Linked DNA regions of Homo sapiens: region 1 is linked to region 2. The links come from fine-mapping of genetic effects on gene expression. Tissue or cell type: visceral fat. Region 2 holds a variant in brackets; the other region holds the start of a gene. All regions are shown on one strand. Distances are from middle to middle.

Region 1 (15,230 bases), 89 kb before region 2:
AATGTGTGCATGTGTCTTTATAGCAAAATGATTTATAATCCTTTGGGTATATACCCCATAATGGGATCACTGGGTCAAATGGTATTTCTAGTTCTAGATCCTTAGGAATTGCCACACTGTCTTCCACAATGGTTGAACTAATTTATACTCCCACCAACAGTGTAAAAGTGTTCCTATTTCTCCACTCTGATGATAGTTTCTTTTGCTGTGCAGAAGCTCTTTAGTTTAATTAGATCCCATTTGTCTGTTTTGGCTTTTGTTACCATTGCTTTTGGTGTCTTAGACATGAAGTTTTTGCCCATGCCTATGTCCTGAATGGTATTGCCCAGGTTTTCTTCTAGGATTTTTATGGTCCTAGGTCTTACCTTTAAGTCTTTGATCCATCTTGAGTTGATTTTTGTATAGGGTACAAGGAAGGGGTCCAGTTTCAGTTTTCTGCATATGGCTAGCCAGTTTTCCCAACAACATTTATTAAATAGGGAATTCTTTTCCCCATTCCTTGTTTGTGTCAGATTTGTCAAAGATCAGATGGTTGTAGATGTGTGGTGTTATTTCTGAGGCCTCTGTTCTGTTCCTTTGGTCTATGTATCTGTTTTGGTACCAGTACTATGCTGTTTTGGTTACTGTAGCCTTGTAGTATAGTGTGAAGTCAAGTAGCGTGGTATCTCCAGCTTTGTTCTTCTTGCCCAAGATTGTCTTGGCTATGCGGGCCCTTTTTTGGTTCCATATGAACTTTAAAGTAGTTTTTTCCAATTCTGTGAAGAAAGTCAGTGGTAGCTTGATGGGTATAGCATTGAATCTATACATTACTTTGGACAGTATGGCCATTTTCACGATATTGATTCTTCCTATCCATGAGCATAGAATGTTTTTCCATTTGTTTGGGTCCTTTCTTACTTCCTTGAGCAGTGGTTTGTAGTTCTCCTTGAAGAGGTTCTTCACATCCCTTGTAAGTTATGTTCCTTGGCATTTTATTCTCTTAGCAGCAATTGTGAATAGGAGTTCACTCATGAGTTGGCTCTCTGTTTGTCTGTTATTGGTGCATAGGAATGCTTGTGATTTTTGCACATTGATATTGTATTCTGAGACTGCTGAAGTTGCTTATCAGCTTAAGGAGATTTTGCATTGTGACTATGGGGTTTTCTAAATATACAATCATGTCATCTGCAAATAGAGACGATTTGACTTCCTCTCTTCCTATTTGAATACCCTTTATTTCTTTCTCTTGCCTGATGGCCCTGGCCAGAACTTCCAATACTATGTTGAATAGGAATGGTGAGAGAGGGCATTCTTGTCTTGTGCTGGTTTTCAAAGGGAATGCTTCCAGTTTTTGCCCATTCAGTATGATATTGGCTGTGGGTTTGTCATAAATAGCTCTTATTATTTTGAGATACGTTCCATTGATACCCAGTTTATTGAGAGTTTTTAGCATGAAGGGGTGTTGAATTTTGTTGAAGGACTTTTCTGCATCTATTGGGATAATCATGTGGTTTTTGTGATTGTTTCTGTTTATGTGATGGATTACGTTTATTGATTTGCGTATGTTGAACCAGGCTTGCATCCCAGGTAGGAAGCTGACTTGATCGTGGTGGATAAGCTTTTTGATGTGCTGCTGGATTTGGTTTGGCAGTATTTTATTGAGGATTTTTGCATCGATGTTCATCAGGGATATTGCCTGAAATTTTCTTTTTTTGTTGTGTCTGCCAGGTTGTGGTATCAGGATGATGCTGGCCTCATAAAATGGGTTAGGGAAGATTTGCTCTTTTTCTATTGTTTGGAATAGTTTCAGAAGGAATGGTACCAGCTCCTCTTTGTACCTCTGGCAGAATTCAGCTGTGAATCTGTCTGGTCCTGGACTTTTTTTGGTTTGTAGGCTATTAATTACTGCCTCAATTTCAGAAGTTGTTATTGGTCTATTCAGGGATTTGACTTATTCCTGGTTTGGACTTAGGAGAGTGTATGTGTCCAGGAATTTATTTTCTTCTAGATTTTCTAGTTTATTTGCGTAGAGGTGTTTATAGTATTCTCTAATGGTAGTTTGTATTTCTGTGGGATCAGTGGTGATATCCCCTTTATCATTTTTTTATTGCATCTATTTGATTCTTCTCTCTTTTCTTCTTTATTAGTCTGGCTAGTGGTCTATCTACTTTGTTGATCTTTTCAAAAAACCAGCTCCTGGATTCACTAATTTTTTGAAGGGTTTTTCATGTCTCTATCTCCTTCAGTTCTGCTCTGATCTCAGTTATTTCTTGTCTTCTGCTAGATTTTGAATTTGTTTGCTGTTGCTTCTCTAGTTCTTTTCATTTTGATTTTAGGGTGTCAATTTTAGATCTTTCCTGTTTTCTCTTGTGGACATTTAGTGCTATAAATTTCCCTTTACACACTGCTCTAAATGTGTCCAGAGATCCTGGTTTGTTGTGTCTTCATTCTCATTGGTTTCAAAGAACATCTTTATTTCTGCCTTCATTTTGTTATTTACCTAGTGGTCATTTAGGAGCAGGTTGTTCAGTTTCCATGTAGTTGTGTGGTTTTGAGTGAGTTTTTAAATCCTAAGTTCTAGTTTGATTGCACTGTGATCTGAGAGACTGTTTGTTATGATTTCTGTTCTCTACATTTCCTCAGGAGTGTTTTACTTCCAATTATGTGGTCAATTTTAGAATAAGTGCAATGAGATGCTGAGAACAACGTATATTCTGTTGATCTTGGGTGGAGAGTGCTGTAGATGTCTATTAGGTCTGCTTGGTCCAGAGCTGAGTTGAAGTCCTGAATATCCGTGTTAATTTTCTGACACATTGATATGTTGTGTTAAAGTCTCCCACTATTATTATGTGGGAGTCTAAGTCTCTTTGTGGGTCTCTAAGAACTTGCTTTCTGAATCTGGATGCTCCTGTATTGGGTGCATATATATTTAGGATAGTTAGCTCTTCTTGCTGCATTGATCCTTTTACCGTTATGTAATGCCCTTCTTTGTCTCTTTTGATCTTTGTTGGTCTAAAGTCTGTTCTAGCAGAGATAAGGATTGCAACTCCTGCTTTTTTTTTTTTCTTTCCATTTCCTTGGTAAATATTCCTCCATCCCTTTATTTTGAGCCTATATGTGTCTTTGCATGTGAGATGGGTCTCCTGAATACAGCACACTGATGGGTCTTGATTCTATCCAATTTGCCAGTCTGTGTCTTTTAACTGGGGAATTTAGCCCATTTACATTTAAGGTTAATATTGTTATGTGTGAATTTGATCCTGTCATTATGATGTTAGCTGGTTGTTTTGGCCATTAGTTGATGCAGTTTCTTCAAAGTGTCAATGTTCTTTACAGTTTGGTATGTTTTTGCAGTGGCTGGTACTGGTTGTTCCTTTCCATGTTCAGTGCTTCCTTCTCTTGTAAGGCAGGCCTGGTGGTGACAAAATCTCTCAGCATTTGCTTGTCTATAAAGGATTTTATTTATCCTTCCCTAAGAAGCTTAGTTTGGCTGGATATGAAACTGTGGGTTGAAAATTCTTTTCTTTAAGCATGTTGAATATTGGCCCCTACTCTCTTCTGGCTTGTAGGGTTTCTGCAGAGAGCTCTGCTGTTAGTCTGATGGGCTTCCCTTTGTACGTAACCCCACCTTTCTCTCTGCCCTTAACATTTTTTCCTTTATTTCAACATTGGCAAATCTGATGATTATGTGTCTTAGGGTTGTTCTTCTCGAGGAGTACCTTCATGGTGTTCTCTGTATTTCCTGAATTTGAATGTTGGCCTGTCTTGCTAGGTTGGGGAAGTTCTCTTGGATAATATCCTGATCTTGGTTTGAGAATTGAACTTGGTTCAATTCGCCTCCTCACTGTCAGGTACACCAATCAAACGTGGATTTGGTCTTTTCACATATATTTCTTGGAGCCTTTGTTCACTCCTTTTTATTCTTTTTTCTCTAATCTTGTTTTCTCTCTTTATTTCATTAAGTTTATCTTCAGTCACTGATATCCTTTCTTCTGCTTGATCGATTCGGCTATTGAAACTTGTGTATGCTTCATGAAGTTCTCATGCTGTGTTTTTCAGCTACATCAGGTCATTTATGTTCTTCTCTACACTCGTTATTCTAGTTAGCAATTTGTCTAACCTTTTTTCAAGGTTCTTAGCTTCCTTGCATTGGGTTAGAACATGCTCCTTTAGCTCGGAGGAGTTCGTTATTACTCACCTTCTGAAGCCTACTTCTGTCAATTCGTCAAACTTTCTCCATCCAGTTTTGTTCCCTTCCTGGCAAGGAGTTGTGATCTTTTATAGGAGAAGAGACGTTCTGGTTTTTGGAATTTTCAGCCTTTTTGTGCTGGTTTTTCCCCATCTTTGTGGATTTATCTACCTTTGGTCTTTGATGTTGGTGACCTTCATATGGGGTCTTTGAGTGGATGTGCTATTTCTTTCTGTTAGTTTTCCTTCTGACAGGCCCCTCTACTGCAAGCCTGCTGGTTTGCTGGAGGTCCACTCCTGACCCTGTTTGCCTGGGTATCACCAGCGGAGGCTGCAGAACAGCAAAGATTGCTACCTGACCTTTCCTCTGGAAGCTTCGTCCCAGAGGGGCACCTGCTGTATGCCAGCCAGAGCTCTCCTGTATGAGGTGTCTGTCGGCCGTACTGGGACGTGTCTCCCAGTCAGGATACACTTGAAGAGGCAGTCTGACCCTTAGCTGAGCTGGAATGCTGTGCTGGGAGGTCTTTTGCTCTCTTCAGAGATGTCAGGCAGGGACATTTAAGTCTGCTGAAGCTGTGCCCACAGCCGCCCCTTTCCCCAGGTGCTCTGTCCCAGGGAGATGGGGGTTTTATCTGTAAGTCCCTGACTGGGACTGCTGCCTTTTTTCAGAGATGCCCTGCCCAGAGAAGGGAAATCTGGCAGTCTGGCCACAGCAGCCTTTCTGAGCTGCAGTGGGATCCACCCAGTTTGAGCTTCCCAGTAGCTTTGTTTACACTGGGAGCAGAAAACCACCTACTCAAGCCTCAGCAATGGCGGATGCCCCTCCCCCCACCAAGCTTGAGTGTCCCAGGTCTATCTCAGACTGCTGCTGTGCTGGCAGCAAGAATTTCAAGCCACTGGATCTTAGTTTGTTGGGCTCTGTGGGGGTGGGACCCCCAAGCCAGACCACTTGGTTCCCTGGCTTCAGCACCCCTTTCCAGGGGAGTGAACGGTTCTGTCTCACTGGCGTTCCAGGTGCCACTGGGGTATGAAAAAAAAGAACTCCTACAGCTAGTTTGGTGTCTCCCCAAATGGCCGCCCAGTTTTGTGCTTGAAACCCAGGGCCCTGGTCGGGTAGGCACTGGAGGGAATCTCCTGGTTTGCGGGTCGCGAATACCATGGGACAAGCACAGTATCTGTGCCATAGTTCCTCAGGCTCAGTCCCTCACAGCTTCCCTTGGTTGGGGGAGAAAATTCTCCGACCCCTTGCACTTCCCGGGTGAGGTGACGCCCCACCCTGCTTTGGCTTGCCCTCCGTGGGCTGCATCCACTGTCCAACCAGTCCCAATGAGATGAACTGGGTACCTCAGTTGGAAATGCAGAAATCACCCTCCTTCTGTGTCAATCTCACTGGAAGCACAGACCAGAGCTGTTCCTATTCGGCCATCTTGCCAGCAATCTGGGTCTTGGTTCTTTATCCAGCTTGCCATTCTGTGTCTTTTAATTGGGGCATTTAGCCATTTACATTTAAGGTTAGTATTGTTATGTGTGGATTTGATCCTGTCTTCATAAAGGTAGCTGGTTATTTTGCAGACTTGTTTATGTGGTTGCTTCATAGTGTCACTGGTCTGTGTGCTTCATTTGGTGTTTCTTGTTTGTTTTTTTACTGGCTACTAATGGTTTTTCCTTTCCATATTTAGTGTTTCCTTCAGCTCTTGCAAGGCAGGTTTGGCGGTGACAAATTCCCTCAGCATTTGCTTGTCTGAAGAGGATCTTATTACTTCTTCACTTATGAAGCTTACTTTGGCTGGATATGAAATTCTGGGTTGGAAATTCGGTTGAGAATGCCGGATATTGGCCCCCAATTTCTTCTGACTTGTAAAGTTTCCACCGAGACGTCCGCTGATAGTCTGAGGGGCTTCCCTTTGTAGGTGACCTGGCCTTTCTCTCTGGCTGCCCTGAACATTTTTTCTAACATTTTGACCTTGGAGCATCTGACGATTATGTGTCTTGGGGTTGATCTTTTTATGGAGTATCTTCCTGGGGTTCTCTGCATTTCCTGAATTTCAATGTTGGCCTGTCTTGCTAGGTTGGTGATGTTCTCCTGGATGATATCCTGAAGCATGTTTTTCAACTTGGTTTTGGCTAATAGACTTCTTAAACTCTCCCTCTCAATGTGGTCCACTCACAGCTTTCCCCAACTCTGTTGATGGCAGCTAAACTTTTCTGGCTGTTCAGACCAAATCTGGAGTCATTCTCAACTACTCTGTTTTACTCCCATGTCCAACTTGTCAGGAAATCCTCTTGGGTCTACTGTTAAAATGTCTGCAGAATCTATCTGAAACCTGTACTGCTTGTTCTGAACCACCCGGTCTGAGCTACGATTAGCTCTTGCCCGCTTCGAGTCATGCTAATATTAATATATTCTCTAGACAGCACCCAGAGCGATTCTTTCAAATAGAAGTAAAGTCATGTCATTTCTCTGTTCAAACTCTGCTATGGTTTGCATTTCACTCAGAATGAAACCTGGAGTCCTTACCAAGGGCCCACAAAGCCCTTTGTGATTTGTCCCCCAACCCCCCACCTCCCACCTCTCCATTATCTTCTGCCAGTATCCCGTCACTTCATTTGGTCCTCTAATTTTGTCTGGCCAAGATAGTGGTTTATTTTTGTCTTTTTCTATGTAATAGGGAAAAGGCAATGAATACAACTAGATGGGAGTTACGTTTCCTTGCAATACAAGCACTAATTGTCTTATTCTTTTGTTAAGCATTCATATACCTGTGGGGCCCCTGCCAGCCTTGGAGTATTCCTACAATGTAGGAGGCAAATGTAAAGCCACCGAAGGTTTTAAACAGGTCAGATTTGCGTTCAGATGGATGATTTTGCATTCATCATGGAGAATGGGCTTAAGCTGAACTCCACTGGAAGCAAAGACTGAAAAACCATTAAAAAGTTTTTACAACTGTTCAGCAGGAGCGCAAAGGAGACTCCAGATTTCAGAAACACTAAGGCAGAATAAAGAGGACCTAGTGCTTGACTGAATAAGACCGTTTGGGGGTCGGGCAGTAAGTTTCAGGGAAAAGCTCCTAGGTTTCTGGCTTGAGTCTTGAGTAACCTAACAGACGAAGGTACCACGTTAGGTGAACATGAGGCCTCCTCGGGTAATTTTTAAGCCTAGCTATCTTGAAAATGCAGCAGTCCTGATGGGCACACACGTGTTGGGGAAGTTTGCGGTTCCTATAGGCCGCGAATTATTTAACTTTTTACACAAGCATTTCATACAACTGTGATGGAGATCAAGAGCTACGTGTTGCCGGCCTCCTGAGGAATGAGGAAAACTGGAGGCCTGACTTCCCTGCTTCCTCCGCTTCCCGGGACCAGCCGTCCTGGCCGCCTGGCGCCCCGCATGCCCGCGGCCTCTCCCTCCCGTGGAGCACCGCGTTTCCCTGGCCGTTGCTGGCGGGCTGTAGTGGAGGAATAACGGACCTGAGCAGCGGTCACCACAGTAACGAATTCGCTGCCAGTGGAGTCTCGAGGGACACAGGCGTCTCCAGGGCGCCCCTTCCGGGTGACCGCGCTGGGGGTCCACACGCGCGTCCGCCCCCAGCCTTCGTTCGCCGCGCTGGTCCCTGCCCAGAGGAGGAGGAAGGGAGGGTAGGGGGCGGCGGGGGTGTTCCCGTCGCAGCTTGGGAACCCCGAAAGGCACCTGAGTGGCCGGCCTCGGCCTCCCTGGGCGGCCGTATTGTCTAAGCTCCATAGCAACCCCGGCGCGGCGCCGGCCACGCTAGCCAGCGTAGCTCCGGAGCCCGCGCGCCGTCGCCGCGTCGCTCAGGCCCTGACCCGCGCTGGACCCGCGCGCTAGGGCCCTGACGGCCCGCGCGGGCTCCAGGCGCGGGCAGCGGGGACGGCATGCCCGAGAAGAGGCTCACCGCGGGTAGGTGGCGGCCCCACAGGGACAGAGGATCAGCCCGCGGCGTCGGGGCCGCACCACGCGCCAGCCTCTGGACTTTACCTCCTGCCCTCCTAGCGGTATCCCCGCTCCCAGACATGAGAAAAAAGGGCTTCACTGCCCTCCTGTTGGATTTTATGACGAATTTCACGTCCTCGCCGGTTTATGCTGGCACCACGTTATCTCGCTTAATTCTGCATATTGTACGTAGAATAATAGAGGGTTCCGTCTATGAAGAAGGGTAACTCCTGGGTCACAGTGAATTAGTGACCAGGCAGGATTCCAGAGGCCTTTCCTTCCCACTTCCACCTTGAATTCCAACTTAAAATGCAAGCCATGTACAGAGAATGAACAGAGGGCCAGAAATGTGCTACGTTTGCCTGTGTATAACGTAGGGCTAGGTGCTGTCTCCCATGATTTCATTTACTCAAAGGAAATCAGATTTGAGGGAGATAATGTAATATTTTGTCTTGTTTCAGAGCCACCAACTATTACAGAAGAAGAATTTGTAAGTATCATTTCAAGGGGCTATTTTTTTCTTTGGCCTTTAAAAAAATAGCAAATATTAGATCATAGAAGAAAGCTGTGTGTTTTCTTTCCTCCTTTTTGCCAGAGTTTTGGTTTAGTAACAATTGTAATAACTGTGTACAAGATCTTTTTAAATTCTTTATCTGGCACATAATTTTAAGAAGGGGCCAATTAATTTGTATGGTGGATGCTGTTCATCATTAAAGTTCTTTCACATAAATGGCCTCATTTAATTTCTCTAAACTCTTTAATGACTCCATGAGAGGAAAGTTTTATCTCCATGGCTGTATTATGATGTGGCTGTGCATTTCCTGGTTGGAGTAAACATAAGTAAATGGCGTTGATGGATAAAGAGTGGTCAATTTATCATTCCTTTACAAATGTACTAAATACTCCCATTTCAGACTTCTAGAGAGGTGAAGTAATAAAAGTATTTGCTAAATATATCCTATACATTGTCATTTAGGTGAGTGCTACATTTAGGCTGGGTTCCATTGTAATTCCCATTGTATACAGTGTTTCAGGAACTTGCCTGAGGTTACACAGACAAATAGGAGCTGTCAGAGCCTAATTCCTACCAAGATCTGAGTCTGATTCCAAGAGCTCTAACCACTTCTATTATTTATTTATGTCTTCCAGCACTTACTTCTCTTGTTGGCTAATTATCTTATTTGCTTTTGGCTTTCAATCAACAAACATGCATGATTGTATAGTCATAGTGTGGTCCTAGATGCTGAGGTTAAGTCTCAAGAAGTTCACAGTCTAGCAGGGACTAAGAGAGAAGAAAGGGCTAAGCCTGTGTGCGCGGGTGGCTTTCACATTCACCTTTCCAGAGCTCTGGTCCATTGCTGGGAGAGACAGACACACACACATCTACACATACACACATACACACACACAGCCACTGAAGGTAGAGGTACACAGAACAAGTCAGAAATTCCTTCCATCTTCTGGCCATGTTGACAGAGCTCTGCTTTAAGAAAAAAAAAAATACACACACACACACACACACACACACACACACGCACATATTTTGAGACAGGGTCTCTCTCTGTCACCCAGGCTGGAGTGTAGTGGCCCCATCACAACTCACTGCAGCCCTGACTTCCCTGGGCTTAGGTGATCTTCCTGTCTCAGCCATCTGAGTCACTGTCCCTATAGGCACGTGCCAGCACGCCTGGCTAATTTTTATATTTTTTGTAGAGACAGAGTTTCACCATGTTGCCCAGGCCAGTCTCGAATTCCTGGGCTCAAGCAATCCACCCACCTCGGCCTCCCAAAGTGCTGGGATTACAGGCCCGAGCCACTGTTCCAGGCCCAGAGCTCTGCTTTTAATGGGAAATTTCTTTAAGCTGCTCCAGGCCTTCCTGAATTTACTCTTAGTTCCAGCAGGAGGTGAGCATTTCTGAAGCCAGCAAATCTTTTCCCATGCTGCTGAAGACTACTCAACAACACGCCACTTACTGTTTGAACAGTTCACTATTTTAGGTGTTGGCCCCATCCTTGAACTCATGATAGCCTGAAGACTCTAGGCATTCCCTTTCTCTTGGCTTGGTTTCACTGTCTCCGAGTTCTCTTATCTTTCATTATTATTCCCCCTTTCTGGCTTCTCTTTTTCTTTTCTCATGAAAGTATTGACCTTCAGGATTCTGTTCTCTGGGCTTTCTCTGGGTGAGCTCCTCTTCTCCTCCTGTAGCTTCAGTACCCCTGTTTCGTGGGACTTCCACATCTCCATACCTCCAGTCCAGACACCACTTTTAATGCCAGCTCTGTATATCCAGCGGTTATTGGGACTCTTTATCATCTGAATGTCCGTGTCAACAGTCTAAACTGAACTTTTCTCCCCAGGCCCCTCCACACTATGCTGTCTTTCCTCCACTTCTTATTTTGGTTTGTGGTGCCACTGGCCATTCAGTCACTCACATCAAAGACTTTCTTCCCTTTTCTTCATCCCCTGCCTGCAATCATTTACCAAGCTCCTTTCATAGCCAGATCTTTTTCTCCATCCACACAACTACTGTCTCATTTCAGGCCCCCACCCTGGGTCTGGACTTTGGTAGTAATCCTAACTGATACCATTGCCTCCAATATTCCTTCTGCCAACTCCAGTTTTTCTTTGTCTAAAGCATAAAATTCAAGCTCCTGAGCATCAGTTGTATTAGATTACTTCCTATTCCTTTGCTCTGTCTACCTTTAGATTTTTCCTTCTCCTATCACTCTTACCCTGGCTATCAGATTGCTATTAATTTTTTAAAACATTACCTTGTTACTGGCTTGCTCAGAGCTTTTATTAATAGCTAGTATTTATTGAATGCTAACAACATGCTAGTATTTAGTCTCAAAACAACCCTATTAGGTGGTTATTACTGCCTACATTTCACAGAAGAGGAGGTCGAAGTTCACAGTGGTTAACTAACTGGGCCTGAGGCCACATATCTCATAACTGGTAAAGCCAAAATGTCAAATGCTTTGCTTTAGCCTTCAAAACCTTTTCTATAACTTTTCAGCCTTCTTTAACCTTACCTCCCAATGCTTTTCTCTGTGATAAAGACAACATTCTTACTGTTTTTGATTTATAAAGTACATCCACATGCCTCCTGCCCCAGCCAAACTATACCCCACTTGTCTCCTTGCCTTTGCTGTCAAATTTTGTCTCAGTTGCCCTTCCCCATCTATTTCACAATCTTGCACATTCTTCAAGGCCCAGCTAATCTCCTCCATGAAGCCTTTCCAACCTAACATCATCCAGACTGCCTGTGAGCTCTGAGCATCTTTTAGCTGAGAGCAGTTTATAACCAGATTCTCAAATTCATATGCTCAACCAAGTATTGTCTATAGATTAAATAATTAACATGTCTTGCACATGTATTTACCCCTGTTTTTCAAAAGTGTGAAAGTATTGTTTTCATTAATAAATTACGTATTCTTAGGAAAAATGTGTCACGGACCTGTAGTTCCCCAAACTCCATTCTCTCCTTTCCATGGTAGATATCAGACCCATTGCTATCCCAAATTAAGACTACATTTTCTAGTTTCCCTTGCAGCCAAACATGGTCACAGAACCAAATTCTGGCCAATACGATGTAGGCAGAAGTGTTGTGTCCTACTTCTCTGGAGAGCTGATGTTTATAGAGATCAAATAATGGACCCTTAGGTCACACAGCTAGTAATTAGTTGAGCCACAGTTAGAAGCTGGGCTATTCTAACTTTAATACTTACATAAGTGTAGAAGGAAAGAATGAGCCCTTTTTCTTCTTTTCTGCCAGCTGGAATACAGTTGTGATGCTGGAGCTAAAGCAGTCATCTTAAATCATGAGATGGATGTGGCATCTTGAGGATGGTGGAGACATAAGATCAGAGGGGCCTGGGTCCCTGATATTTGGGAAGCCACAATGCCTTATGATTAATGTCTTATGATTACAACTGCTTTTGATTACATGAGAAAAATATTTTATTATTTTATTTAAGTAGTTTTTTTTTTTGGTTTCGTGCTCCTGTGTTCATACTAGCTTTTTTTTCATATTGTATTTTCTCAGTGGATCTAAAAGTACCATGCTGTTATAGACATCTGCAAAATAATATTTGAACCTCAACATGGGGTCTTCATTCTCAAAGGATAGAATAACTCATTTAGAATAAATTATTTGTTTGTTAGGGACACATACCTTGTATATATTTTTAATTTTTTACCTAGGTGTAAGATACACATTGAGAAAGTTTAAAGTGAGAGTGAATTACAAAATTTACACATTAAAATTTAGGGCTGGGCGCAGTGGCTCATGCTTGTAATCTCAGCACTTTGGGAGGTCAAGGTGGGCGGATCATGAAGTCAGGAGATCGAGACCATCCTGGTTAACACAGTGAAACCTTGTCTCTACTAAAAATACCAAAAAAAAAAAAAAAAAAAAAATTAGCTGGGCATGCCTGTAGTCCCAGCAACTCGGGAGGGTGAGGCAGGAGAATCGCTTGAATCCAGGAGGCAGAGGTTGCAGCGAGCTGAGATCACGCCACCACACTCCAGCCTGGGCAACAGAGCGAGACTCCATCTCAAAAAAAAAAAAAAGAAATTTAGGAGTCACTGTCACTTTAAACTTACAGCTAAAGTAAGGTGTAAGGTACACATTCAGAAAGTTTAAAGTGAGAATGACTCTTAAATTTTTTTATCATTAAAATAGAGTGCATTAATAGCGAAGATTTAAGAGCCTGACTTTTACATTCAAAATAATATCTTTTTCTTGTGCCTTAAAAGTAGTTAGTTTGCAACTATGCAAGTAAGTGTGCCAGACTTCAAAAAAAGTCTTTATCAAGTCTTCCATCAAAAAATGGAATCCAGGAAAGAAAATTCTTTATGGAGTAAAAACATTGTAGTGTAATGATCTATTTTGTTGAAGGTTTTCTGATTTAGAAAACCCACAGTTTTATTAACGTTAAAACTGGATTAAAAGCTGTTTAAAAAAGGAAAAGTTAAAAAAGAGACTACCTTGTAATCTTACTATCAAATTAAGATAAACTTTAGCTTTAAGCAGTATTTACTTGTATTTTAGTTGTTAAAAGTGGTATTCATTTTTAACTAATTTTTAGTCTGTTCAAATTTCTATTTTGTTATTTTTACAGGTTGAATGAAATTATAATAAACATAGGGTATTTCCCAAGCATGAAGACATTCTCATTATTTTAACATACAGTAACATAGTTGACTCTCCATATCCATGGATTCCACATCTGTGGATTCACCCAAACTTGGATTGAAAATATTCAGAAAAAGGCCAGGTGCAATGGCTCACACCTGTAACCCCAGCACTTTGGGAGGCCGTCGCAGGCAGATCACCTGAGGTCAGGAGTTCGAGACCAGCCTGGCCAACATGGTGAAACTGCGTCTCTACCAAAAATACAAAAATTAGCTGGACGTGATGGCACATGCCTGTAGTACCAGCTACTTGGGAGGCTGAAGCAGGAGAATTGCTTGAACCCAGGAGGTGGAGGTTGCAGTGAGCCCAGATCATGCCATTGCACTCCAGCCTCGGTGACAGAATGAGACTACGTCTCAAAAAAAAAAAAAAAATCAGAAAAAAATACAAACTTTAAAAATATAGGATAACAACCATTTACATAACATTTACATTGTATTAGGTATTGTAAGAAATCTAGAGTTGATTTAAAGTACATAGGAGGTTGGGTGTAGGTTATATGCAAATACTATGCCATTTTATATGAGGGACTTGAACATCCCCAGATTTCAGTGTCTGTGGGGGGTCCTGGAACCAATCCCCTGTGGATACCAAGGGACAACTGTATAGAATAAAGGTCCATAATTCCAGTCCTCCTAAACAAGACTAATTACTTGGCAATTAATGACCACTTGGTGGTTTTTTTCAAACAAAATATGTTAAATTACACATAATTGGGTTAAATGAACAGTGAGAGCCTACTGGGGCTGACACACTAGGCAGCTTCATATGGAAACACTGGAAGATAGGGCTAGACCTAAGTACTACCCCTACGTTCTCCTGTTCTTGTTTCTTTAAGAGGTTGCAGAGCTAGGGGCCAGAAGTGTTGTGAACAAGTCTTTAGGAAACTAAGACAGGTCCCAGAGGTCCTTTGTAAAGTGTTATGCTATTTGGAATTCTTTCATCTCTATGGAATCCTTTACTCTGAGTAGGAATCAAATTCTCTGATGCTTTTTTGGAACTACAGAAACTGTTAACAGTCCCATTGATAAGTTGGTAAATAAGTATATCATTAAGCAACTTTTTCAAGGTATGGCCATATTAGACACTACTGGGGACAAACATTGTCATTAGTCCCCAAAGTAGCATACCTTCTGATCAGAGAGATGGCCTTTAATATGAAACAGTAAAAGGATAAGCAGTTTATAGTTTAAGTGTGAGGTTTGAATTAAAAGTACATTGGGATTTAGAGAAGCTTGCCACATCCTCTTTTTACCTGTAAAGTATAGAATGGGAGACAAGGTGACCAAGGGTGTGAGATACTCTCTGCTTTAAATGAGTTTATTGAGTTGTAAGTATCTTTGTACAAGGAGAAAGCCTTAGGGTGTTTGTGCCTAATGGATTGTCTTAAGCCTAGTAGGTATAATTCGAAGTATTGGATTGGATAAAATTGATTGGATAAAAGGGAGTCTGGGCCAGGCGCAATGGCTCACACCTGTAATCCCAGCACTTTGAGAGGCCGAGGCGGGTGGATCATGAAGTCAGGAGATTCAGACCATCCTGGCCAACATGGTGAAACCCCGTCTCTACTAAAAATACAAAAACTAGCTGGGCTTGGTGGCATGCACCTGTAGTCCCAGCTACTCAGGAGGCTGAGCCAGGATAATCGCTTGAACCTGGGAGGTGGAGGTTGCAGTGAGCCAAGATTTTGCCACTGCACTCCAGCCTGGTGACAGAGCGAGACTTCATTAAAAAATAAATAAAATAAAATAAAATAAAATAAAATAAAATAAAATAAAATAAAATAAAATAAAATAAAATAAATAAAATAATAAAATAAATAAAAAAATAAAAGGGGGTCAGGGGCAGGGGAGCATCCAGAGCTTCCTTCACCTTCTCAAGCCTTTTGGGTACTTGTTGAGAGAGAGAGAGACAGA
Region 2 (15,230 bases):
CTTTATGAACATTAAATGTCAAACATCACCTTTAATATTTTTTTTCTCCGTGAGACTGTAGGTCCATGAAGACAGTCTGCTCTGTTTACCTTGTATGCTCAGGACTGAAGGTGCCATATAAAAGGTGCTGTGATAGGTATTGAAAAAATTCATGAACTCATTGGCATGTTTATATTTGTAGCAACGTATTATAAACCTAATGAAAGATAGTCATTATTTGGAAATGACAGCCAGCTGAGTGTTTTTATTTTTTTAAGAAAAATTTTATGTGAAAACAGTTTAATGAGCCCCCATATACCTTCACTAAGCTTCAGCAATGATCAACATTCTGTCTTTCCAGTTTGCTCTTGGCTGGGCTTGGTGGCTCACACCTGTAATCCCAGCACTTTGGAAGGCCAAGGTGGGTGGATCACGAGGTCAGGAGTTCGAGACCAGCCTGGCCAACATAGTGAAACCCATCTCTACTAAAAATACAAAAATTAGCCGGGCGTGGTGGCGCTCGCCTATAATCCCAGCTACTCAGCGGGCTGAGGCAGGAGAATTGCTTGAACCCGGGTGGTGGAGGTTGCAGTGAGCCAAGATTGCGCCACTGCACTCCAGCCTGGGCGACAAAGCAAGACTCTTTCTTGGAAAAAAACAAAAAACAACAAAAAAAGGGAGCTCTTAATAAATTGTATTGGAGCAGCAATGAAATCTCCCTGTCCCCTCCCACTTCACCCAAGGAACCTAAAAATATGGTTGCTTTTTGAAATTTGAACTAGGAAATGAATGTGTAATAAATCAGAACAGATATGAGCAGCTGACTAGAGACAAAAAGGCTTCACAGGCCTGCAAGATTTGTAATGAAGATGCCAGCACATGTAAAGAAAGAATTTTCCAGGCCAGGCACAGTGGCTCGCACCTATAATCCCAGCATTTGGGAGGCTGAGCTGGGAAGATCACTTGACCCCAGGAGTTCAAGATCAGCATGAACAACGTGGTGAGGCCCTATTTCTACAAAAAATTAAAAAAATTAGCCAGGTGTGGTGGCCCGTGCTTGTAGTCCCAGCTACTTGGGAGGCTGAAACAGGAAGATCACTTGAGCCCAGGAATTGGAGGCTGCAGTGAGCTATGAGTGCACCAGTGTATTCCAGCTGCAGTCTGGCATTGGCAACAGAGTGAGACCCTAGCTCTTAGAAAAACAGAAAAAGAAAGAATGTTTCACTCATGAAGAGACATTGTTTGGCAGTGGCATCCCAGAAGGTGTAGTGTCTCAGAGGCAGACCTTGACATGCCCTTGAAGTACTGTCCTAAGCTGTCTGCTCCTTGTATCTAGTCAGCCTGAAAGATTTTGATGGAGAGAATATTCATAGGGTTCATACAGTTACCTTCACTTATTCTGACTATGTAAACTTGTTTTCCAAGATGGTGTGCTGGTAAACATAGACCTACAACCTTAATGATGGTTGATTTTCTCATTTTTCATTGTACAGCAATCACTTGATACTCTGGTTTCATGTATCAGTCCTGTGTGCTTTGTTAGCATAGATTATCATACTGGTGAAACAGGTTTGTTTTTTTTCCCAAGCCAGAAATTTTAATATAATCATGTTTTTAAAATTGAATTATTTATCTCAGCATTTTGGGAGGCCAAGGCACGTAGATCACTTGAGCCTAGGAGTTCGAGACCAGCCTGGGCAGCATAACAAAACCCTATCTCTACAAAAAAAATACAAAAATTAGCCTGGTTTGGTGGTGTGCACCTGTAGTCCCAGCTACTCGGGAGGCTAGGCTTGAGCCTAGGAGGTTGCAGTCAGCTGAGACTGCGCCACTGCACTCCAACCTGGGTAACATAGTGAGACCCTATTTAAAAATAAATAAATAAATTAATTAATTAATTTAATTGAATTTTTTTGTTCACTGATTTCCAAGAAATTATTTATTAATAGAAGTTAAATAATTCCATTAGTTTAAATGTATATCTTGCTTTTGTCAGTTAAAGGTTTTTTAAAAAACAAATCCAAAAATTTATAAAATAAAACCTTTATTTGTTCCTTAGATTGCCTTAAACTGCATAGTAATAACTTTTTTTTCTGTGTGCTTGTTTATTTTATTTCATCATGCACTCAACTGATTTTACTTAAAATGTCTTAAGCAATGACCCAAATCTATCTTAAAAACCTAGCCTTTTTTGTCCCTGGTTTGTTCTCGTCTTTTCTTAACACGTTCTATTTTCCCCTTCTGATTTTTTACTCTGTCCCAAATGATTCAAATTGTTTTACTGTTTTATCCTATTGGCATTTTCTTAGGCTCTCATTTGCTTTGAATTCTCTTTAGTAGGGTCTGAGCAATTGGCAAAAATTCTAGTTTGTCATCATTATCTTTTTTCGTACAAGTCCATCTTGTGTTGATCTCTGCAGTAGTTTGCCTCTTGGTATCAAGACGTTGCAATCCCTAGATCCCATCTTTAAGATTCCTGTTTGAAAAACCCAAGGTCCTTCACATGAAAATCCATCTGTGAAAAGCTCCATCTGTAATTTAGTCGCTCTCGGCATAGCTCCTCAGTAATGTTTTTGAGCTCCTAGTGGGATATGAGAGGTCATTAAAAATCATCATTTTTTCCTCCTTTTGCAGAAAAAAAGATTGGATTGCTTGAACTTGCTTGTTATTTTCTTTTTCTGCCGCATATGAACTCAGATAATAATGTTCTATGCCTGCTAGAGCTGTGAATGGTTATGAAAACAGACTTCTCTTTTTGCTGAAGTAAATATTTTGTGATTTCTGAAAGTATCCTGTATCACAGCATTTATATTTCTTTTATAAACACCTCTGGGGACTCTTTTTTTTTTTTTCACCCTTAGCTTCTTGGAGCACAGTTCATCTCATTGTTTTATATAAAGTCCAAGCATAGAGTTATTGAGCCCAGTTGAGCAGATCCCATGTTACTTTGCTATTTGCCATCACATACAGCAATATGGTTTCTTTGTTGTTGTTACAGTTTAGTGGACATCTGTTCTGTTGTGTTTAAGATGATCTGTGAAGTGATTTTGGTCTCTTTGGGGTCCAGACACTGAATCAAGATCCATTAGTACCATTTCTATTTCTCATAATGCTTTAATGTTTCCTCTTCAAATATGTTCCTTGTACTTTCTCATCAGGCCAAGCTAATAAGATTTTCCCCACTAAACTCTTACCTCTTCTGATTAATTTATCAGACTGAGGATAAATGTAATATTTGAAGCTTAGTTTTGACCTTTTCTAAATAAGGACTATTCAGAATGTAAACAAACAATTTTAAAGAAAAGCTGTTGACCCTCCTCTTCTGGTTCAGCTTTACTCTAACTATTAACAGGGCCTTTACTGTATATTTTTTTAAATGGATGTCTGTTAAACAGAGTATGTAAGTAAACTGTTATAAATTGGCATATTCTGGTGTGACTTGGTATATACTGGTATGTAGCTTTGCTGCCAGTAAATATTTGAAGTAGCTGGTGTCATTTGTTTTTTCCTACTTTATTTCTCTTTCTTTAGTGATCATGATAGGAAGAGAAGTATATTTGCCTTATAATCAGTGCTATGATGAGAAATGTTTAACAACCAGATCTCTAGGGGAAAAAGCAGCCCTGATTTGTAGCATTTGCTGATCTCTGGGTATACTCTCACCATGGATGATTTCAAGCTGCCAAAGTGACGTCACTGAATGCAGAGTTGGGAAGAGATGTGCAGTAGCACCCCATCATATAATATTTCCCCCATACAGATACACCTCAAGACCATGGGTAATATTAATCGCAAAACAGTAAAATCAACAAGAAGTAATGAGTTTTGAGTAGTCATTATTTTTGTTTTTAATATAACTTCTTTTTTTCCTGAGGCCTTTGGACTTGAATCATAATTTCTTTAATTGTAAGTTTATGTGATTTAATTTTTGGTAATGACAGAGTTTAACAACTGACTCACAAAATTCCTGAATGTTTATGAATCGGCTCTTGTGAGCTGGTACAAGCTGGCTCCAGTAAACCATTGCTTATAAGGGAGGAAGAGAAGTAATAACAAGAAAAGCATCACTGTGAATCCTCTCCATTTTTTCTCTAATGTTACAGCTGGAGATCCTGACTCTTCACCTTTAAAAAATTTCTTCCACCTTTTGGAGAGTGCTTATGAACCACTCACTTATGCTTACCAAAGAAGGCACATAATCTCTCCTCCAGAATCACCAGGTCCTGCACAGTTTACTGTGAACTTCATGAAGGAGCTTATGAAAAAGCTTTGTATATTTCAGTAGCCAAAGGCTTTTTCTTCTTTTGTCTTTAGAGTGTATGAAATAGTGCCATGGCTTTTGTGGAATATCTCTTTTTCCTAGCGGCTGGCTAGGTCTTTGCTAATACCACCCTGTCAGTCCATCAGGCAGAACCTTAGTGCTACCTGATGGTAAGGAGAAGAAAATTGCGGCCGGGCGTGGTGGCTCACACCTGTAATCCCAGCACTTTGGGAGGCCGAGGCGGGTGGATCACCTGAGTTCGGGAGTTAGAGACCAGCCTGACCAACATGGAGAAACTTCATTGCTACTAAAAATACAAAATTAGCTGGGCGTGGTGGCAGGTGCCTGTAATTCCAGCTACTCAGGAGGCTGAGGCAGGAGAATTGCTTGAACCTGGGAGACGGAGGTTGCGGTGAGCCGAGATTGCACCATTGCACTCCAGCCTGGGCAACAAGAGTGAAACTCCATCTAAAAAAAAAAAAAAGTACTTTTTTTGCAACAGCAGATGGTTTTATAGTTCTTATACTGTCTTGGTGAGCATCTTGGAAAATTGTGAGAAGAATGTGAAAGATACATATTAAAATGCCTTCTGCTGCCTTACTAATTACATGATTAGAATTCCCTCTTTTACTTTTTAGTCGAGTAATGGGTCTAAAAAAAAGGGACTTATTAGTGATACAAAATGCTGAAGCATGAATGTTTTCTCCTAATCTCTGGAATACGATATTGGAAGTCTACTTTTAAAATGTCATCAATTTTAGTTAATCTGGTGATACGCTCTACGAGATGTGCTGTCAACTAGTATTAAGATCTCACAGTACATAGGTTTTGAATACATTTTATTCTTTATGTACTGAGGGACTCATTTTAAGTCATACAGTTCCAAAGTTTTACATTTCACTTTCTTACTTCCAGTCCTGGCCTGGTGGTGACAGCAGAACATCAGGTAATCAGTGTTACCAGGCAATCATAGCAAGATACATACACATGATCATTAAAATAAATACATCAAAACGAAGTATGTGAAACTGTTCCATTAACATAACTAACAGCTGAAATGTAACATAACAAATCAACACATGTGTTACAACATTTGGTATTATTTCTGACTTTGCCTTTTAAGGCTGCAGAGAAATTGTTCTTGTTTTCATTGGAACGCAGATAAGTGTCAAGCTGTAGCTCATCAAATGGCCCCTACTTATGGAAAAGATGCCTTCCCAAAGCCTGTGCTCACCTTTGGCACAGTGAGAATACTTTGCTGGGTGCTTCTACAGTATGCTAATTGGAATCTAATCCCATAGCTGTCATCATTTAGCCTTTGATACAAAGAGAAATCCAAATAGTACAGACAGTTGTGGAAAACATTTCCATTTTTTTTTTTTTGCTTTTGACATTGTTAAAAACAATAAATTCAATAAACACACAATTTTCATTTCTCAGGTATGTTTATCTAGACCTTATCTTCAATAAGAAAACATTAATGTGGGAAAAGTAAGTCTGGCATGCATTATGATACATTTGAAAGGAGATGGGGATTCACTTCTATCCAAGAATATGCTTATAAACACACAATTTCAAAATGATTTTGGAAACTATTAAGTGGTGCGGAAATCTTGCATGAAAAATATCATAATGTTGGAAAAATATAAATTGCAATGGGAAATGTCGTATTTTAAATCGTTTGAGCTATCTCATGTGTATTAATAGTACAATGCAGGTATTATATAGAGGATATTGTCTCTAATTAATGAAGCAGCTGAGATTTCCTTGAAGATGCAAACAGGAATATTTGTTCACTTTTTCCCCCAACAATGTCAGCAAATTAATATGTATTAAGAATAAATTAAACATTGTTCTTCATTTTAACGCTATTTAGAAAGCAAAACATTAATCAAAATATAGATTTTCTTCCCCTACCCTCTTTTGTGTGTGTGTGTGTGTGTCTTCATTTATTCTAATTTTTTTCTCCATTCTTTTTTCTGCTCTCCAATTCAGCTCTTCCTTCTGTCTCATGGTATCCATCCTACATCTTTTTTCTTGCTAGTCTTGTTAACTCTCGAGTAATATTGACAGTTCAGTTAGGCTAGAAAATTAACTCCCAGAATTTCAGTACTGTAAAAGATTTTTTAGGGGCAGGCATTACTTTTTTTTTTTTTTTTTGATACAGATGCCAAGAAAGTGAGTCACAGGCACAGGTGTAGAGAGGTGCGGGGAAAGCAGCACATTGTGCATTTCCTGATTACATAACCTTTGAGTGTCTCCAGGAGAGATGAGGCTTAGAGCCATGTTGTGTGCAGTGCCAGGCAGTTTGATCACAGACAGGCAGTGCTTGTATCCCTTCTCAAAAACTTTCCTGCTGGGTTGTTAAAGCATCATAGGTTAATGTTTAAATTGGACTCATGTTGGCCACAGCTGTGTGTGAGTGAATCTCTGCTTGAATGTGAATCAGAGTAGCTGACTGGAATATGAAGGGAGCATTTTCTTCTCTAACATGAGCTACATTGTTATTTACTCTGTGGCTAGAAAGGAAGAACTGGGCGGCCAGTAAAAAAGCAAATGATTTGGATATTTAAACAATGTTTCTAACCCATAATCAGACTATATTATTTATATATCATATAGTATAATCTTTACGTTTCATCTTAAAGTCAATTTATATCAACTTAAAATGATTTTATCATCTTTATAAAGATTTTAAGTGTGTTGTTTAGCTTTTTAAACTTTTGTTTTAAATATACAATTACAATATCTTGTATTTGCTATATATATATATACTCAGTTGTTAGTTATCCACTTACAGATTGCCTTGGATTATTAGAAAGACATCTTCAGATTTTAGTTCCATAATTCAGTTTAAATGTACTATAATTTTATTGTATGGGCTAATAAAGGATTGACAAACTGAATTCAGTTTTCTCATCCTTACTCTCTTAACCACCTGTGTCCCTACCATCCTGGGGAGGTGAGGAACAGCAGAGACAACTTCAACAAAAGACAACAAATGTGTGTAATGTAGGCTTGGGATGCCATGGATTGGATGACCTCACAAGCCCCTTTTTAATGCTTCCAGTTCTGTGATTTTTCAATAAAGGACTGGGCATGGTGGCTCATGCTTGTAATCCCAGTACTTTGGGAGGCCAAGAAGCCAAGAGGGAAGGATCACTTGAGCCTAGGAGTTTGAGACCAGCCTGGGCAATATAATGAGACCTTGTCTCTACAAAATATTTTTTAAAAATTAGTGGAGCATGGTGATGAAAGTTGACAAGAGGATTGCTTGAGCCCAGGAGGCAGAGGTTTCAGTGAGCCAAGATCACACCACTGTCCTTCAGCGTGGGTGACAGAGCAAGCCCCTGTTTAAAAAAAAAAAAAAAAAAAAAAAAAAAAAAAAAAAAAAGACTGGTAAGGAATCAGGGATGTAGGGAGAGTGTATTATTATTATTAATATTTATTTATTTAAATTATACTTTAAGTTTTAGGTTACATGTGCACAACGTGCAGGTTAGTTACATATGTATACATGTGCCATGTTGGTGTGCTGAACCCAGTAACTTGTCATTTAGCATTAGGTATATTATTATTAATTTACTTATTTTTTTGAGACGGAGTCTTGCTCTGTCGCCCAGGCTGGAATGCAGTGGCCCAATCTTGGCTCACTGCAAGCTCCGCCTCCCGGGTTCACGCCATTCTCCTACCTCAGCCTCCTGAGCAGCTGGGACTACAGGCGCCTGCCACCATGCCCGGCTAATTTTTTGTATTTTTAGTAGAGACAGGGTTTCACCATGTTAGCCAGGATGGTCTCGATCTCCTGACCTCGTGATCTGCCTGCCTCAGCCTCCCAAAGTGCTGGGGTTACAGGTGTGAGTCACCACACCCAGCAGGAGAGTGTATTATTCTTAAGGATTATGCTGGTTGTCAGATGGGGGTTGATATTCTTGAACAAAGAGAAATTGTTTGGGTGACAATAATTCAATAAACGTGGTGAGGAAGCAAAAGAAAAAAAA[G/AG]TGGAAGGGCAAATTAATACCTACATTTAGGTGCAATCGTTTAGTTCATTTCTTTTTTCCTCCCCTCTGCTCTCTAGTTTATTTATTTTTAACAGGGAAGTCTATGAAGCGTCAACCCAAGTTCTAAATTGTATATTCTTGGTTTGAGATGTTGGCATTCGAGTATAGCTATTCAATTAATATGACTGAGAATTAGACAAATGTCTGTTTCTTATCACCTAACATCTGCTTTTCTTTGCGTTATTTTCAGCTTTAAATATGTGTCAAGTGTTTCTAGGAGTCTTGTTTTAGAGAAACTTCAGAATTTATCTAACTGATGACAATTAAATATAGAGGAACCATATAATTTATCATCTAAACCCAGATACTTTTCAGAATGAAACTATTAATAATTATGCCAAGACAGTAGGCTTAGACCAGAGTAGGGACACATGACTGTCCCAATTATATAGCTCCTAGAGACTGCAGACTCTGTAGCTAAATAATATGCATGAATCCCCGTGGCTAGAGCAAAATATGAGTGTGAGGTCAGGAAGAAAGGTAGCAGACAGTAACCTGGGAAAGGTCTGGCCTTGCTTGGTCAGAAAACTGAGTTTTATGATGTTTCTTGAGATGGAAGTTATGCTACTTATTTCCTCCTGATATTTGTTTTTGTTAGTTTCTCCTTGTTTCATTGGAGAGATTAAATTCATAGGATTTGCATTAGAGAATAAAAAAGGGGAGTGCAGGGAAGAGTCAAAAATTATACTATGAATGGTATATTATTAATGAAAACTGGAGGCCAGGCATGGTGGCTCACACTTGTAATCCCAGAACTTTGGGAGGCCAAGGCAGGCAGATTACTTGAGATCAGGAGCTCAAGACCAGCCTGGCTGACATGGTGAAACCCTGTCTCTACGAAAAATACAAAAATTAGCCTGGCGTGGTGGTGAATGCCTGTGGTCCCAGCTACTCAGGAGGCTGACACACAAGAATCGCTTGAACCTGGCAGGCAGAGGTTGCAGTGAGTTGAGATCATGCCACTGCACTCCAGCCTGGGTGACAAAGCAAGACTCCATCTCAAGAAGAAAGAAAGAAAGAAAAGAAAAGAAAACTGGAAACACAGGAGGAAGGGAGAGGCTTTAGAAGTTAGGAAAGGATAATTTGCTATATTATTGAGTCATTGAGGGTCTGGAAGATATTCATGTAGCTATAACAAAGTAGGCTGCTAGAAGCAAAGGTTTTGAGTTCAGGGAAGAAATCAGGTCTAAAACTATTAGTATTAATATATGGAGTTCTTCCACATTGATTGTTAAATTTTTGGGGCTAGATGAAGTCTTCCATTCATCCACTCATTCTAAATTTCACATTATGCCAGATGCTAGGGATACAGTAATAAACAAAGTAGACCCAGTCTCTGTCTTTGTAGAATGTAGGGTCCAATGGGAAAAACATAAAAGTACAGGGTCCATGGGAACACACAGGATGGATTCTTAAGCCAGACTTCAGGAGCCAAGGAAGCTGAGTCTTTAGGATGAATAGAAGCTCAGTGAAAGGGGAAAAGAAGATGAGGGTAGAGAGCATAGAAGGGATAGAGTGCAGAGTACAAAAATCCTGTGAGGGAGTGCTTGGCTCATGTGAGAAACTGTAGGGGCATGAACTGAGAAGGTGTAGTTGAGCATAGAACTTTAGTGAGTGTCATCTTTTAAGGGAGGAATGGAGGAAAAGGAATCAGCAAAGAGCCTGAGAAGAAGCGGAAATTGGCATAGAATCAAGAGAAAGGGTTGGCGAAGTCAGAGGAAAGAGAGTCAAGGAGAGAGGAGATAATAAGCAGTATTAAAGCTGCATAAGGGATCAGGTTGAATGAAGATTAAGGAAAGAAGCTATTGAATTGGCGATTATGTGGTTTTTAGTGATCTTTGAGTTCATTGTCATTGGCATGGAAGCCAGACTTCCATAGATTGAGGAGTGACTATGGAGACTTGTAGAGAGAGGGAAGAGAGAAGTAGTGTAAGAAGTAGGTGGCAAAACAGAGTCAGGAAAAACGTTTTAGAATGAGAGAGGCACTAGATTTCAACAACTTTGTAGCATAAAGAAGGAAATGGAATCAGTGGAGAGGTAGATTAAAGAAACAAGGCACTAAGAAAATAATTGGTGTTACAGGCTCTGGAGGAACATGGTCGAGCACACCTGAATGGCTTAGGATTGGAAAGATGTCTTTGAGACATCAGAGAAACAAAAAGATTTAAAAGAGAGCTCTTGAGAGGAAAGTTGAGGGCATTTATACCAGTGGTTTTTCCCAGTTATGTGGAAGATAAAGTCTACTGAAAGTGAAGAAGTGTAAGAATACAGTTGGGAGCATTAAAGAGGATGGCAGTTTTAAAATGGGAAATGGCATTGATTAGAAATAAGCAAAAATGTAACAAACTTTTTGATTGCAGCTAAGTTTTTTTTGAAGTCTATAATGGAGTCAGTCATTATGTTTTTAGTAGGAACTTGAGGATACAGTGGGGAGGAATTAGGGATGTTGGTAAGAGTATAGTTGAAATAATGGACAGTTCTCAGTCCCAATTGTGTAAGAAAGTAAGATAAAGCAGCTGGTGCATGATTTATTTAGAGGACGAGAATAACCTTCAGATTGTGCTGAAGGTGAAGAAAAGCTTGGTGAGGAGATACAAATAGATGAAAAGTATGGTCAGAGAGAGGAAGTTGTTCTACTAATATGGTAAGTGGTAAAATAAAGAGAAACTTATTTTGAAGAAAACCATAAAGCAAAATTTAAGAAGGTAAAAAGCCCAAGGCAATTGGATACAATCATATACAGAAACTTAGCTTCAACAGGGCATCATGAAGTGTCCACCATAGTATAGATATAGTAGTAGACTATCTAAATCACACGTAGATAATCTCATGGAACTTAGAGTAGCACTAAATCTTAAAACAGAAAGAGTAAAGGCAAGACTGAGAGTAAAAGAGAAGGGAAATAGATGTAGGCATCCACCAAAGGCTGACAATCCTAACAGCTGTCATTGTTATCCTAGCCACCATTTCAACTTCTTTCCTACTTTACCCTCTTCTCTGTTCTCATTTAAAAAAAGAAATCAGGCCAGGCGCGATGGCTTACACCTGTAATCCAAGCACTTTGGGAGGCCGAGGCGGGCGGATCACGAGGTCAGGATTTTGAGACCATCCTGGCTAACATGGTGAAACCCCATCTCTACTAAAAATACAAAAAATTAGCTGGGCGTGGTGGTGGACACCTGTAGTCCCAGCTACTCGGGAGGCTGAAGCAGGAGAATGGCATGAACCCAAGAGGCGGAGCTTGCAGTGAGCCGAGATTACGCCACTGCACTCCAGCCTGGGTGATAAAGCGAGACTGACTCCGTCTCAAAAAAAAAAAAAAAAAAAAAAAAATCAAAGGCGTTATCCTGATTTCTATATGAGAACTTTTCTTTTACTAACCAGAATGCTCAACATATGAGAATTTGATATGTAGCACATCAGATCTTTTTAAACTATAGTTTTGAATTGCAAAAGAAAAAAGCATATTTCAAAAAAATATTTCTCCCCTAATTTAGCCTGACTACTGATTTTTAATGTAAGTAATTTAGGCTGTTAAATTTTCTTTTCCTTGAAGTGAATTTGGAATTATTGGAGCAAATCCTACATTTTTAAATGTTGTTAATTTGATAATTTTAATCTTTAGTTTCGTAATTTACCTAAGACATTATTTTAGTTTACTTTCAAAAACTCTCTCTCTCTCTCTGTTTCTTTCTTTTCTTTCTCTCTCTCTCACTGTCTCTCCCTCTTTGTCTCTCTCCTCACTCTTGTCACCCAGTCTGGAGTACGGTGGCACCATCATATTTCACTGTAATCTCGAACTCCTGGCCTCAAGTGATTCTCCCACCTTGGCCTCCCAAAATGTTGAAACTACAGGAATGAGCTACCACACCCTGCCAGCTTTAAATTCTTGACCTGTGAAATTTCCCTTTCAAATCACTGTTGCTCTTTAAGCCACTCATCTCTTATTTATATACTCAGCAAATATCTATTGAATGCCTATTATATTCTGAACTTTAGTATTCCCTTTTAACTACTCTACATGCCCTTCTCCCTTATCTTAATCACTGGTTCTTTGATACTCTACCCTGCAAATTACTGTATCACTACCCTGATTTTGACCTCGTTTGCTTTCCTGCGTGTCATGGACCTCACAGTAGAGCATTTCAATTGCACTTTAACCAGCACCTTTGATTCTTTGGTTGCTTTAATGTCTTTACATATATATATATAATATATATTATTAACACCATTTATTGCTGTCTCCTGTCTTTAAGCTAACTCTTCATTTGGCTTCTGTAGCATTACTCTGACTTGGTTTACCTCTTATCTCTCTGACTTCTATTTCTCAGGTTCTTTTACTATTTCTTCTGACTTTATTCGTTATTATCATTTTATTTTGCAATAAGTATTTATTGATATTTACCCACATATTTGTACTTTCCATTGTTTTTGAGTCCATCCTGCTTTTGTCTAGAGCCTCCATTTAATATTTCATTTAGTACAGGTCTGCTGGTGATGAAGTCTCTTTTTTTGTCTGCTGATTTATAACATCTTTATTTTGTTTTTATTTTGGAAGGGTGTTTTTGCTAGACATAGAATTATATGTTGGCAGTTATTTTCTTTTGGCACATTAAAAACTCGAGGCTGGAGTCAGTATCTAGTCCATTCCTGCTCTCAGGGTGTTTTGAGAGCTTAGGATGTTTACAGGGACTTCCCCACTGACAGGTCCTGAACTATAATCCTTGTCTCCTCATCATTGCGAGACTTCCAAAAACTCCATTTATAGGTAATTATAAGGATTTTGACTTTTATTATGTGTGAGATGGGAAGCTGCTAGAGAGTTTGAGCAGAGGACTGCTGCACAAAAGGATTTTTCTGTCTGCTGTGGTAAGAATAGACTGTAAGAAAGCCAAGAGGAGTCTGGGAAGACCAGTTAAGAGGCTACTGCAAAAAAGCAAGCAAGAGGTGAAGGTGGCATATAATTTCTTGTCTAGCTATTGAAATAACTTCCAAACTGCCTCAAATATTGATCTTACTCAAACTATCACATCCAATGACGTCACTCCTCAGTTAAAATCCTTCAAAGATTCCCCATTATATCTTTAAGTAAAAATTCAAATTCCTTAACAAAGGATAAAAGATCATATTCATGCTCTGGTCTCTGCCTCCCTTTAAAGTATCTTCTCTTATTCACCTCTTTCCTTTAGCCAGTGTTACCTACTTGAAGCCTAAAATCCCTCCATAGGTTTTAAAGCTCCCATAGGCCTCCATGCATTGACCTGTGTTTTGCTTCTGCTTGGGCCGTCTTTCATCAACCCTCCTCTATTGTGCGATTATTGACTCCAACTTATCTTTAGAGATTCAGCTTAACAGTTATCTTCTGGAGGCCAGGCATGGTGGCTCACACCTGTTAATTCCAGCTCTTTGGGATGTCAAGGTGGGCAGATTGCTTGAGCCCAGGAGTTCGAGATTAGCCTGAGCAACATAGCAAGACCCCATCTCTTTAAAAAAAAAAAAAAAAGAATTATCTTCTCTCTGAAGAGTTTCTAGAATTCTTTCCTTCCCTAGTCCAATACATAAATGAGTCTTTTCTAGGGATTTGGAAAATTTAATAAATGTTTATGGCATCTACTGTCTGCCAAGAACAGTTCTAGGAATTGGAGATACACCAGTGAATAAGCTACAGTCTTTGCCCTCAAGGATCTCAGTCTAGAAGAGAAGACACATAAATACATAACTGCATTATAGAGTGACAGGCATAGCAGCAGAAATTGTGATTGTTGGGGGAGAATGTGAGTGAAAGCTTCCTAGAGGAGGGGAAATCCATGTTGGTTTTTTATTTTTTTAGACGGAGTCTCACTCTGTTGCCAGGCTGCAGTGCAGTGGCACAATCTTGGCTCACTGCAACCTCCGCCTCCTGGGTTCAAGCGATTTTCATGCCTCAGCCTCCTGAGTAGCTGGGACTACAGGCGCCCACCACCGTGCCCAGCTAATTTGTGTATTTTTGGTAGAGATGGGGTTTCACCATGTTGGCCAGGATGGTCTCGATCTCTTGACCTCGTGATGTGCCCGCCTCGGCCTCCCAAAGTGCTGGGATTACAGGTGTGAGCCACTGTGCCTGGCCTTATGTTGGTTTTAAACTCTAAATTAGTTTATCAAGCAGACAAGGTATGTGGGGTAGTGTAGACATCCAAGATGGAAGGAACAATATGTGCAATGGTATGAAATGGCAAAATAGCAAGACTTAGGGAAATTATAGAAACTTTGTATTTGAATGTAAAATTTGAAAGATGATTAATGGGAGATGAGCTTAAAAGAATCATTAAAGATCTTATTTATAATACATACCTCTCTTATAGCACTTACCGTCCTGTATTATAACCATTGATATTCATCTCCATGTCACCACCAAATTGGCTTCTTCAGAATAGGCATTGACTCTTGTTCATTAATCTTTACATACATAGCACCTAGCCAGGTGTCTAAGATGCAGTAGATGGAGTACTCAGTAAATGCTTCTGTTGTTAACATGGACCCTTTAAGTCTTAAAAGATTATTTTAAATAAGACTATTACTTGCTGTTTGGTACAAATTTATATCTGTATCTGTCTATTCTGAGTTGATCTAGATATTATCAGTTTCAAATTCTAAGTATATGAAATAAAATTGAAATAAAGTATAAGTTAACTAGAGATTTTTAGTAAAACTTGATTTAAAATGTCAGGGCATGACATATCCAGTATGCAAACATTTTTTAAACAAAATGTTATTAAATTGCTTCTCAGATATACATAACTATTATTGAGAGACATGACAATTAGTAGAATGGAACAGATATTTGTGGCAGGTTTGCTGGAGGTTCTATGTATATCTTTCCATTCACTCTTTTTTTTTTTTTTTTTTTTGAGGTGGAGTCTCACTTTGTCACCCAGGCTGGAGTGCAGTGG

Which allele goes with the higher level. Positions count from the first base shown, and alleles are read on the strand shown. Sizes are in standard deviations (SD) of each study's normalised expression.
For the expression in visceral fat of the gene that starts at base 7,931 in region 1, AG is the high allele of the variant in region 2 and G is the other (small effect, 0.27 SD a copy in GTEx).

What was found. PIP is the estimated chance that this variant, and not a neighbour inherited with it, causes the effect.
Region 1: it holds the start of RGS22, and the variant in region 2 is the best candidate, but not a certain one, in a credible set for the expression of RGS22 in visceral fat (GTEx, PIP 0.52).

Annotation. Positions count from the first base shown.
Region 1 is chr8:100,098,750-100,113,979 of GRCh38, reverse strand. RGS22 (regulator of G protein signaling 22) reads left to right here and starts at 7,931. Exons shown (of 28, transcript NM_015668.5): 1 at 7,931-8,083; 2 at 8,578-8,606. The coding sequence starts at 8,059.
Region 2 is chr8:100,009,383-100,024,612 of GRCh38, reverse strand. The region is part of intron 14 of RGS22 (regulator of G protein signaling 22); the gene reads left to right. Among named protein-coding and RNA genes, the nearest start is that of SNORD77B, 12 kb to the right of the region's middle. The variant G/AG (reference allele first, on the strand shown) is at 8,242.